Linked DNA regions of Homo sapiens. The protein of the gene in region 1 purifies or fractionates together with the protein of each later gene. This does not show direct contact. Each region holds a gene or a part of one and is shown in the gene's direction. Other genes may lie near its edges.

Region 1 (3,650 bases):
CCCAAACCTTTGCCTCCTTTTCCCTCAGTTTCCTGCTTCCTCAGCCTGGGCTAGATCCTAAGTCCCCTGTGTGTGCAGGCCCCCAATACTGTGCCATCTCTGCATGCCTTTTCCCAAGGAGAGAAGGGAGTCCTACTCCCAGTTGGGACTGTCCAGACTGTGGTGCTAGAGGTGGTGTGGGGAGCAGGAGGGTCATTCCCATCTCTGGAATGTGGATCCCGAGGGGTCAGAGCCCAAGGCCCACCCCAGACAGACCTCTGTCTCCCTCAGACACTGACCACTACTTTCTGCGCTATGCTGTGCTGCCGCGGGAGGTGGTCTGCACCGAAAACCTCACCCCCTGGAAGAAGCTCTTGCCCTGTAGTTCCAAGGTGAGGCCGCAGAGCCTGGCAGCCGGGGGCGGGGGGTGTATAGAGAACCTGCGCCCCATGCCAAGTGCTCCATACAGGGCTTCTCTTATCTCTTTCCATCTCCTCCAGGCAGGCCTCTCTGTGCTGCTGAAGGCAGATCGCTTGTTCCACACCAGCTACCACTCCCAGGCAGTGCATATCCGCCCTGTTTGCAGAGTAAGTCATGGGGAGTAGAGGAAGCTGCCATCCAGGGGCTCAGAGAAGGTACATGTAAAGCATGTGGTCAGTGTCTGGCTCAGGCTGAGTGAGTACTGAGTGGTAGATGTGATGACGGTTATTCAGGGCATTGGCCAAGCACCAAGAAAACAGTGGTTGCCTAGCAAGCACTGAATAAATATTTGTCATGGAAAATAGTGGTTCAGAACAATAGCTATGCGGGTGCAATTGCTAGCTCAGTCACTTGCCAGCTGGCGTAACCTTGGGTGAATCATTTCATTCCCCTGAGCTTGGTTTCCCACCCTGCCACATGACATTGATAGTAGAATCCACTCCTAGGGTTGTTGTGATAGTTTATCAAACTGATGCACATACAGCTGTCAGCACGGGGTCTGGCACGAGGTCAAGTGCTCAGGAGTGGGTGGTAGCAAATCGATGGATGTGAAGATACATAGATGAGGGATTGAGTCTGAGTAGGAGTCTTTTTGGGGGCTGTGTGGTGAGAGTGATACCCCCTCACTGCTGCCATCTGGCCCTTGTGATAGAATGCACGCTGTACTAGCATCTCCTGGGAGCTGAGGCAGACCCTGTCAGTTGTATTTGATGCCTTCATCACGGGGCAGGGAAAGAAAGGTAAGTTACCTTGGCAACTCATCTGTACCCACCCATGCCAGCCCTGCCTTATCTATGTGGACTAGGCCTAGGCCTGGCCCCTGCTCAGCCCTGCGCTCTGTTTCTCAGACTGGTCCCTCTTCCGGATGTTCTCCCGAACCCTCACGGAGCCCTGCCCCCTGGCTTCAGAGAGCCGAGTCTATGTGGACATCACCACCTACAACCAGGTAACAAGGTCTCCAGCCACACACACAAACACACCGCTGGTCCCCAGGACCAGCCTACCCTCTCTGCTTGCTTCTTAGCCCTGCCTTTGTGTCCCCAGGACAACGAGACATTAGAGGTGCACCCACCCCCGACCACTACATATCAGGACGTCATCCTAGGCACTCGGAAGACCTATGCCATCTATGACTTGCTTGACACCGCCATGATCAACAACTCTCGAAACCTCAACATCCAGCTCAAGTGGAAGAGACCCCCAGAGAATGGTGAGTGGGTGGTTGGTTGGACTGCTGGGTTGCAACGGCTACAGAGAAAAGACTCACAATCCCACGTCTTTGCCGTTAGATGATTGGGTTGTATTTAGACCAGATTTCCAGAGTCATATGCTGCTGACTGTAGCTATTCCAAGCTCTACGATTTTGGGTAGGTTCCTAAACTCCCCAAGCTTCAGCATCCACATCTGAAAAATAGAGTATACTTAGCAAATTGGATGAGATGATGTGAAAAATGGAGTTAGTTCATGCATTTGCTTAATCAACCAAATACTTTTGAATTCATACTAAGTGCCAGGCATAGAGTGTTGAATAAGACAGAGGACACTGCACTCAAGAAATATAAGTCTACTAGCTAGGGCAGGTGTCAGTTAATTAATTACAGTTGTGTTCAGTTCCCTTACCAAGGGAAAGAGCAGAATATCCTGAGAGGACCTGGATTGGGTTCGAAGGGGGCACGGTGTTCGTCACGTAAGCACTTCAATACTAGCAACCTATTGTCATCATCGCTTGTTGGCTGGGGAAGACAGGGATGATTCCAGAACCCAGATTGCCCAGTTTCAGTGGCAGGGCTGTTCCCCATCTACTCACTGGCTTGGGACTCTGAACATGGCCTGGGCAGGTGGGGTGGGGAGTGATTCTTACCTTTGGCAGCTGTTAACTGTTGATATTTCTTTACACAGAGGCCCCCCCAGTGCCCTTCCTGCATGCCCAGCGGTACGTGAGTGGCTATGGGCTGCAGAAGGGGGAGCTGAGCACACTGCTGTACAACACCCACCCATACCGGGCCTTCCCGGTGCTGCTGCTGGACACCGTACCCTGGTATCTGCGGCTGTATGTGCACACCCTCACCATCACCTCCAAGGGCAAGGAGAACAAACCAAGTGAGGACCTGAGTCCTGAACCAGGCCCCCAGCCCGCCCTCTCATGTCCTCTCCAGGTCCCCCAAACTCTCATTTCCCAGGGTAGTTCCTGAAGTACCTCTGAAAAGCTACACAGGCATAAAGAGTAAGGAATAGTTTCTCAAAACTGGAACGGGAGCCTCACTGTGCCAGGTTCAGAAGTAATTTATAAAACAGCAATAATTAAAACACATAATACTGGTGATTCTTAATAGGACTGTACAAGGACAGTAGCTTCCTTTTTCACTTACTTTTGCCTCCTTTCTGGAGCATTGGGTTTTGTGATGATTCATAGACTCTTTAAGGTAGGGAAAGGGTTTGGCAACGTTAGGCTTTTGAAGCTAGGAAGATAGCAGAGCTGGAGTAGATGGTGTTTTGCTTCCTTGGGAGGGGTAAAGAGGTACAGTTAATTAAATTTTTTTATTTCTATTTTTATTAAAATTTATTTTTATTTTCTATTATTTTTCTAAGGAGAAGATAATATTAGTGCTTCCTATTAGGTGCCAGGCATAGCACTAAAGCACTTGCCTTTCTTTGGTGTAGGGGGAGACTAGTAGTAAAGTAAAAGACCTCTGAGGAAGAGGTTGTACCATATCCCAAACGGCCAAACTTAAAAACCTTTCAGTACTTTAGTTGATTCCTATATTTTCAAACATACGGTGAATAGTTTCACTTATTTTCAGCACCATTATTTGTACCACCTTCAAAATCTCTATTTCAGACATCCTAACTGCATATTCTATAGGTTTTTCTGTTATTATTCTTTTAAATCTTCTCCTTTGGAAAATTTCAAACCCAAACCCAAACAGAATAGTGTAATAATCCCCTGTACACACCCTGCAGCCTTTTTTTTTTTTTTTTAAGAGACAGACTGTTGCTCTGTCAGCTATGCCGGAGTGCAGTGGCATGATCATGGCTCATTGCAGTCTCAGACTGCTCGGCTCAAGCAATCCTCCTACCTCCGCTTCCCTAGGACTACAGGCATGAACCGCCATGCCTTTAATTTTTTCACAGAGGCAGGGTCTTGTTATGTTGCACAGGCTGGTCTCAAACTCCTGGCCTCAAGCGATTCT
Region 2 (3,650 bases), about 18 Mb from region 1:
GAAGAATTCTGAATTCCAAAACCCATCTGCCCAAGGGTTTTAAACATGCAGTTCTGTGCGCCACAGTCCCTTGGTCCACGCTGCTGTTGAATGAACGCTCAGGTGGGTGGCTTCCACATTCCTGCCGCTTTGAACGGTGCTTCTGTGAACAGCGTTGTCTGTGTTTGGTGCATCCTGGTGAGTTTTTCTAGAATATAAATGTATTAAAAGTAGAATTGCTGGGTTGTGAGGAGCACACATGTTCAGCTTTGTAAGGAGTACCAGATTGTTTTTGTAGCACAGTCCGTTCTCCTGATACCAGAGTAGAAAAAGTTGAAGTGAACTTATTCTTTGCTAAGCATTGGCATTCTCAGTCTGGTGGGTGTCCCACGGCAGCGTTGTCTTTCCGTACATGCTCAGTGTGGGATTCTCCGGCTCACAGCTCTTCCAGCGCTGCCCTCTGCCCTTGGAGGAGCATCTAAACCCCTCCCTCAGCTGTTATTTTTTTCCTGTAGAAATAAATCAGAATGAGTTATGCAGAAAAACCCGATGAAATCACGAAAGATGAGTGGATGGAAAAGCTCAATAACTTGCATGTCCAGAGAGCAGACATGAACCGCCTCATCATGAACTACCTGGTCACAGGTAATGGCTTACAGTGAGGATGCTGTTGCATGAATGTGATTCTCCCTTTTTGAACACATAAGGAGTGCTGTAGCACTGAGGTTTGATGACGTAGTTATTTGTGTTCAGACATTATGAAAACACAATGCTAACCTGGTAAGTTTGGAAGTTATCATGTGAAAGCCTTTTCTGAAGATGAGATTTTTCCAGGTCTCTGAGACCTAACACAAACCCATTTTTCAGCCTTTGACAGTTTTACAGTTACTCAAAATAATTGAGACTGTTGTGAAGTAAGTATATTGAAAGCCTAAATAGTTGATCTCTTCTGGCCAGTCTGCAAAAATATGCTGGCCTGTTTCTGGAAAGTATGCCCAACTCAGAGGATGGGAATGGGGAAGAGCAGAAGCGTGCAGAGGGAAATAACAGTCAGGCTGTTCTTGATGTCAACTGGAGGAAGGGCAGTGCTGTATATGGCAAGAAAATAGATGTTTTTAAAAGACATGACATGAAAAATCTCCCTCCTGTTAGTCCCCAGTTCCTTCTCCCAAATTAATCTCTGTGAAACTTTTTTGGGCCAAGCATGGTGGCTCATGCTTATAGTCCCAGCACTTTGAGAGACAGAGGAAGATTGTTCGCGCCTAGGAATTCCAGACCAGCCTGGGCAACATAGTGAGACCTTGTCTCTACAAAAAAAAAATGTTAATTAGCTGGATGTGGTGGCTTGTGCCTGTAGTCCCAGCTACTTGGGAGGCTGAGGTGGGAGGATCACTTAAGCCCGGAAGGCGGAGGTTGCAGTGAGCCAAGATTGTGCCACTGCACTCCAGCCTGGGAGAGTGAGTGGGACCCCATCTCAAAAAAAATATTTTTGGAAGGTGAAGAGGAAATTTAGGCCTATAATTATGTCAGGGGCAGGGGAAGGGGCACACATGCTGGCTTTGAAAAATTGTAGACACTCTTAAGAGGTGGGAGTCAACAGGCCACTGCAGGTATAGCTGACCATGGAGGGCCCCTGTGCTGTGGAGGCTGAGCCAGTGTGACTTGCCTAACCTGGCACCAGAGCTGCGGCTGCTGGCGTCTGGACCTATTATCTGTCCTCTCAAAGGAGCCCACACCAACACACTGGGCCAGCAGCCATTCTGACCTCTTTGGCTAATGGGTTAGAGTTTTTGGATGGGATAACAAGGAATGAAGTATACTCTTCTCATTTTCTATATGTATTTTGAGAGCATAACTTGTAAATTATAAAGATATTAATACCGAGTTCCTGAGAAAGTGTGGTTCACATCAGAGGTTATTAATTGAGGCAATTGGAGTTTCTGGAGATACAAAGTCTTTGCCTTAATTCCTTGCTAACTTTCCTAGCAGTGAAGATGGTTTTTCTATTCAGAGGGCTTTAAGGAAGCAGCGGAGAAGTTTCGAATGGAATCTGGAATCGAACCTAGTGTGGATCTGGAAACACTTGATGAACGAATCAAGATCCGGGAGATGATACTGAAAGGTCAGATTCAGGAGGCCATCGCCTTGATCAACAGCCTCCACCCAGAGCTCTTGGACACAAACCGGTATCTTTACTTCCATTTGCAGGTATGTTTCAGGAGAGAGTAGTCTGGTTTGTGAATACTTGATAAGTTAAAGTTATTTGCAATGATTGAGAAATAACTAGGCTAATTTGCTTTAATAATGTTATTTCAATGCATGTGAGGGGGAGAGGTTTGAGTTTGCTCTTTTATGTAGTTCAGAAGCGGTTTTTTGTTTTAAAAATGCAAATTTGATAACTCAGAGATGCAAGAAAAGTCTTCCCTCTGTGATGTACTTTTGATTGGGACCTGGTACCACCTGCCCTAAGTCCCTGGCCTGGGTGTGTGGGGGTCAAGCTTGTCTGTCTCTGCCTCCAGCAACAGCATTTGATCGAGCTGATCCGCCAGCGGGAGACAGAGGCGGCGCTGGAGTTTGCACAGACTCAGCTGGCGGAGCAGGGCGAGGAGAGCCGAGAGTGCCTCACAGAGATGGAGCGTACCCTGGCACTGCTGGCCTTTGACAGTCCCGAGGAGTCGCCCTTCGGAGACCTCCTCCACACCATGCAGAGGCAGAAGGTGGGGCCTGCCAGAGGGAAGCTTTCTTCCATTCCCCATGTGCTCTGAGGGGGCTTCGTGACAACGCCAAGTGTGTGGCTTTGCTGTGTGGACTGAGAGACAGGTGGCTTCTGTGCCTGGGATGCTAAGTGGTTCCTTCATGGCTTTTTTTTTTTTTTTTGGAGGTGAAGTCTTGTTCTGTCGCCCAGGCTGGAGTGCAGTGACGAGATCTCTGCTCACTGCAACCCCCGCCTCCTGTGTTCAAGCGATTCTCCTGCCTCTGCCTCCCAAGTAGCTGGGACTACAGGAGTGTGCCACCACGCCCAGCTAAGTTTTGTATTTTTAGTGGAGATGGGGTTTCACCATATTGGCCAGGCTGGTCTTGAACCCCTGACCTCAGGTGATCCAGTCTCCCAAAGTACTGGGATTACAGGTGTGAGCCATCATGCTCAGCCTCTCTCTGGCTTTTAATCTTTTATCTTGTCAAACTAGGGACAACGGACTTGGTGATCGTTACACAGTATTCACACCCTTTGCTGGTGTCTTATATTTATCTGAACCTTCTTTCTGTTTATGTCCCAAGTATTTCTCATTTAAAATCCTGTCTTCTGAAACTTTTCTCTCCTCGCTGCTATGTTTTTGTCTGGCAGAACATGACAGCTCCTCGCCTTCCCAGACCCAGGTCCCTCTTCCCCCGGGTCCTCTCCCGGGGGCTCTGTCCTCCCTACGCTGTCTTGGAAGGATGGCCTGTCCTAGAGTCCACTTGAGATGTTTTCTTGAGGCTTGTGAGGAGGGTGCTGGTATGTCCTGCTACGCTGGTCTTACCTCTCTCCCAGTCCCCTCAGCACTTTGTTCAAGGCTTGCTCATGGCACTTAACTGCCATCGAGGTTGCATGTGACGTTTAACAACCAGACTGTGAGCTTCCCCAGGCAAGGACTATGTATTTCATGTCCTGAGAGTGTCTCGCAGTTAAG
Region 3 (3,650 bases), on another chromosome or scaffold:
AAGTTATAATCTTGAGTTGAAAGAATGGAAGAATAAAGCTTGACTTTTAAACATGAAGTGTATAGCTTAATTCAAAGAAAATTAAATAGTGCTATGTTAAAAGTAGGCAGAGTTCTTCACATTGTAGAAGTCAGTCTGGAGACTTGATTGTTGTAAATGTCCTTTTGTTTGTTTGTTTTACTGTTTTGTAACATAATCTGAAGGGTTTTATAAAAATAAATGCAGAGAGGTGAATTTAGCTTCACCACTCTTATTTGCATATCTGATCGCTTAGTAAATGGTAGTAATATTAATAGGATGCTTGCCTAGAATGAAAGAAGGGAATTTTTATAAGGAGGGTATGATCACTATTCACCCAGAATATAAGTATTCACTCTTACATATAAATCAACGCCTCATGTATCATTGGTTGATTTTGATAAAAATTATGCAATTTCAAGAAAGCAGAAAGCTCTTTATTCCAACATGTTTTTACCCTCACTGACAAAAATGACAACTTGAAAAATTATTTAGAAACTTGCATATGATAATCAGGGGTGGTATTTAGTGTCATTAGGGACAAAGTTTAGGGTTTTTTTGAGAATGTAAAACTGTACATGTTGGTTTTGTTTTAGCACATATGACAGGAACAAACTAAAACTATTCAATCTGTTGCCTTGTTCTGATAGATGTGTATGGACTCAGAAAAACATATGATCTACACTTTTGGTGGTAGAATTTTGACTTGTAATGGCAGCGTAGATGACAGCAGAGCCAGTGAACCACAATTCAGTGGCTTGTTTGCTTTCAACTGTCAATGTCAAACCTGGAAACTTCTTCGAGAGGACTCCTGTAATGCTGGGCCTGAGGACATCCAGTCTCGAATAGGACACTGCATGTTATTCCACTCAGTAAGAACATTCCGTACATTGCGTAAATGTTATTTTGTCATGTATATCTAGATAGGAAAAGAAGTGGTGAAATCTAATTCTTTAGGAAGAGATTAGTGTAGCAATGACAGAGAAAGACAAAACTTCTTTAACAGTGAACTGTTTGCTAATTATGAGACTCTTCCCATCAACCTGGTAATTCCTAAATAGTTACTACCTGGCTACCAACCTGGGCAATCTTATGACTAATTTCACTGCTTATGTAGATTTTGTAGCTATGTTCCTTTCTTATGCCTTTCCACTTACGTCTCTTAGTAATTAGAAGGACAATTTCTTACTCTGTTCTTATTTTCCCTTCTGCTATTCTCCATTAAGTACAAAGAATTTAAGATTTGATTTTATAGAATTAGAATTTAAATGTATCAGCAATGGTCAGGAGCAGTGGATCACTTGATTCCAGAAGTTTGAGACGAGCCTGGCCAACATGGCGAAACCCCATCCCCAGTAAAAATACAAAAATTAGCCTGGCGTGGTGACCTGTGCCTGTAGTCCCAGCCTCCCAAGTAGCTGGGATTACAGGCATGCACCACCACGCCCGGCTAATTTTTTGTATTTAGTAAAGACAGGGTTTCACCATGTTGGCCAGGCTGGTCTTGAACTCCTGACCTCAGGTGATCCACCCGCCTCTGCCTTCTGCGGTGTTGGGATTACAGGCATGAGCCACTGTACCTGGCCACTTTCTTGATGCTCAAATTTTTCTCTTTGGCTAGTAGGAGCACCCCCCACAACATATTTATGTATCTTTTTTTGTAAGAGAAAAATTAAATTGTGAATTCATACTGATATGTCTGATTCAAATAAAATATTTTTTATCTTAATGTCTTCTATTTTGTAACTTTATATCTTTTCTTTTTACCCCGACTGGAGCGCAGATCGTAGCTCACTACAGCCTTGAATGTCAGGGCTCAAATGATCCTCTCACCTTAGCCCCCCAAGTAGCTAAAACTACAGGTGTGTACCACCACACCTGGGTTTTGAGTAGTAGTAGTAGTAGTAGTAGTAGTAGTAGTAGTAGTAGAAGAAGTAGTAGTAGTAGTAGTAGTAGTAGTAGTAGTAGTAGTAGTAGTAGTAGTAGTAGTAGAAGTGGAAGTGGAAGTGGAAGTAGGAGACAGGGCCTTGCTGTGTTGCCCAGGCTGTCTCAAGCAATCCTCTCACCTTGGCCTGCCCAAATGCTAGGACTACAGGTGTGAGCCACCATGCCTGGCCTATTTTTGTGTCTTTTAAGGTTAAAATCCTGCTTCATAACATTAGTTGCTTTGTCTGTCTATAATAGCTTTCACAGTAAAGAAAACTAACAACAGAATCACTGAGTGCTGTTTAACGTTGCTTTCTGATTATTTTTCTGTTTAGGATTTAGACTTCTAGGGATGGGTAGTCAAAAAGTATGTATTAAAATCATTAGAAATACTATTTCTGTGTCTGAGTATATCTTTATATACAGATAGGTTTATTTGTTGGATTTTTTTTGCCCAAATTTTAGATTTTTTTTTTGAGTTAATTTTGTCTTCTAATTAAATAAAAGCATATACATTGTTCTAAAGTCAAAACCATACATCAAGGTATTATTTTTGGAGAGGTCTTCCTGCTCTGTTCCTGCCACTATAGGTAACTGTCTTTTATTAGGTTTTGGTTTATCCTTCCTTTGTTTTTCAAAAAAAGAAGCAATCTCTATTCTCGCTCTCGCTTGCGTGCTCTCTCTCTCACTTTTCCCCTCTCTCACATTCTCTTTCCCTCTCTCCCTCTCTTTTTGTCTGATGCACAGATATTCCTTCTTCTCCATTCCTACACAAAGGAAGAAGGAACCTGTATATATTATTCTGCACCTTGCTTTTCTTCTTTAACAGGATGTCCTAGAGATCCCCTTTTAGCAATATGTAGAGAGCTTCCTCTTTCCCTTTTATTCCAGCATAGTACTCCATTGGGATCTGTTATAAAATTACTTTTGTAGAGGTTTAAGTTTTTAAAGGATCATTCTGAGTTCTTCATGGAAGTGATAAGTTACTCCTTTCTTTTTTTTTTTCTTCTTTTTCAGAAAAATCGTTGCTTATATGTATTTGGTGGCCAGCGATCAAAGACCTATTTGAATGATTTCTTTAGTTATGATGTGGACTCTGATCATGTAGACATAATATCAGATGGCACCAAGAAAGACTCTGGGATGGGTAAGGGCATTGAGTGATTTCTTCTCTCATGTCTTAACTACTTTAGGTAGAAAACTGCAGTTCATTCTCTTTTCTTTCTAATCATTTTTCACCCTTTCTTTATTTCTTTAATTGAGTAATTCCAAGTAAGAGAAAGAAAATTCTACCAGCTTATTCAGTTCTATCTATTTTTAAATATGGGAATTACTATTTCCTTCAAGCAGAAAATATGTGAATTTCTAAATGAATTGTGTGTGTGCTTGTTGGGGGGCGGGGTAGGAAGAATCAATATCTTAAAAACTTTTTATTCTGTGTTTGCTAATTTTTTTCATCTTCTATTTTCACTGTAGTGATCTTTATATTAGGCACTAGCATAGTAGGGTGTGTGTCTTAAGGGGGGAACTTCATGGGATTGGTAACACCTTGTAAGTTTAAAAGCTCAGCATCTAGGAGGTTATTAGTAGTGGAATGGCTGGTTTGCTTAGATTATGCATATTGCCCTGGCATAATTATTAATAGTGCTCCATTCATTTTCAAAAGTGTCCTGTTTTGATCATTTATAGTTACCCTACATAGTAGT

The links.
Region 2: the proteins of PIGT (region 1) and GID8 purify together in Homo sapiens (co-immunoprecipitation; 3 studies listed by BioGRID and IntAct, with this or other methods). This does not show direct contact.
Region 3: the proteins of PIGT (region 1) and MKLN1 purify together in Homo sapiens (co-immunoprecipitation; 3 studies listed by BioGRID and IntAct, with this or other methods). This does not show direct contact.

The regions. Positions count from the first base shown.
Region 1 is NC_000020.11:45,419,025-45,422,674, forward strand, and holds part of PIGT (GPI-anchor transamidase component PIGT isoform 1 precursor), read left to right. Parts: intron 1-270; coding exon 271-371; intron 372-448; exon of another isoform or gene 449-479; coding exon 480-566; intron 567-1,111; coding exon 1,112-1,199; intron 1,200-1,307; coding exon 1,308-1,405; intron 1,406-1,503; coding exon 1,504-1,669; intron 1,670-2,358; coding exon 2,359-2,559; intron 2,560-3,650. UniProt on the Homo sapiens protein: Component of the glycosylphosphatidylinositol-anchor (GPI-anchor) transamidase (GPI-T) complex that catalyzes the formation of the linkage between a proprotein and a GPI-anchor and participates in GPI anchored protein biosynthesis.
Region 2 is NC_000020.11:62,940,997-62,944,646, forward strand, and holds part of GID8 (glucose-induced degradation protein 8 homolog), read left to right. Parts: intron 1-494; 5' UTR 495-506; coding exon 507-624; intron 625-1,990; coding exon 1,991-2,187; intron 2,188-2,498; coding exon 2,499-2,696; intron 2,697-3,650. UniProt on the Homo sapiens protein: Core component of the CTLH E3 ubiquitin-protein ligase complex that selectively accepts ubiquitin from UBE2H and mediates ubiquitination and subsequent proteasomal degradation of the transcription factor HBP1.
Region 3 is NC_000007.14:131,442,813-131,446,462, forward strand, and holds part of MKLN1 (muskelin), read left to right. Parts: intron 1-668; coding exon 669-890; intron 891-2,961; coding exon 2,962-3,091; intron 3,092-3,650. UniProt on the Homo sapiens protein: Component of the CTLH E3 ubiquitin-protein ligase complex that selectively accepts ubiquitin from UBE2H and mediates ubiquitination and subsequent proteasomal degradation of the transcription factor HBP1.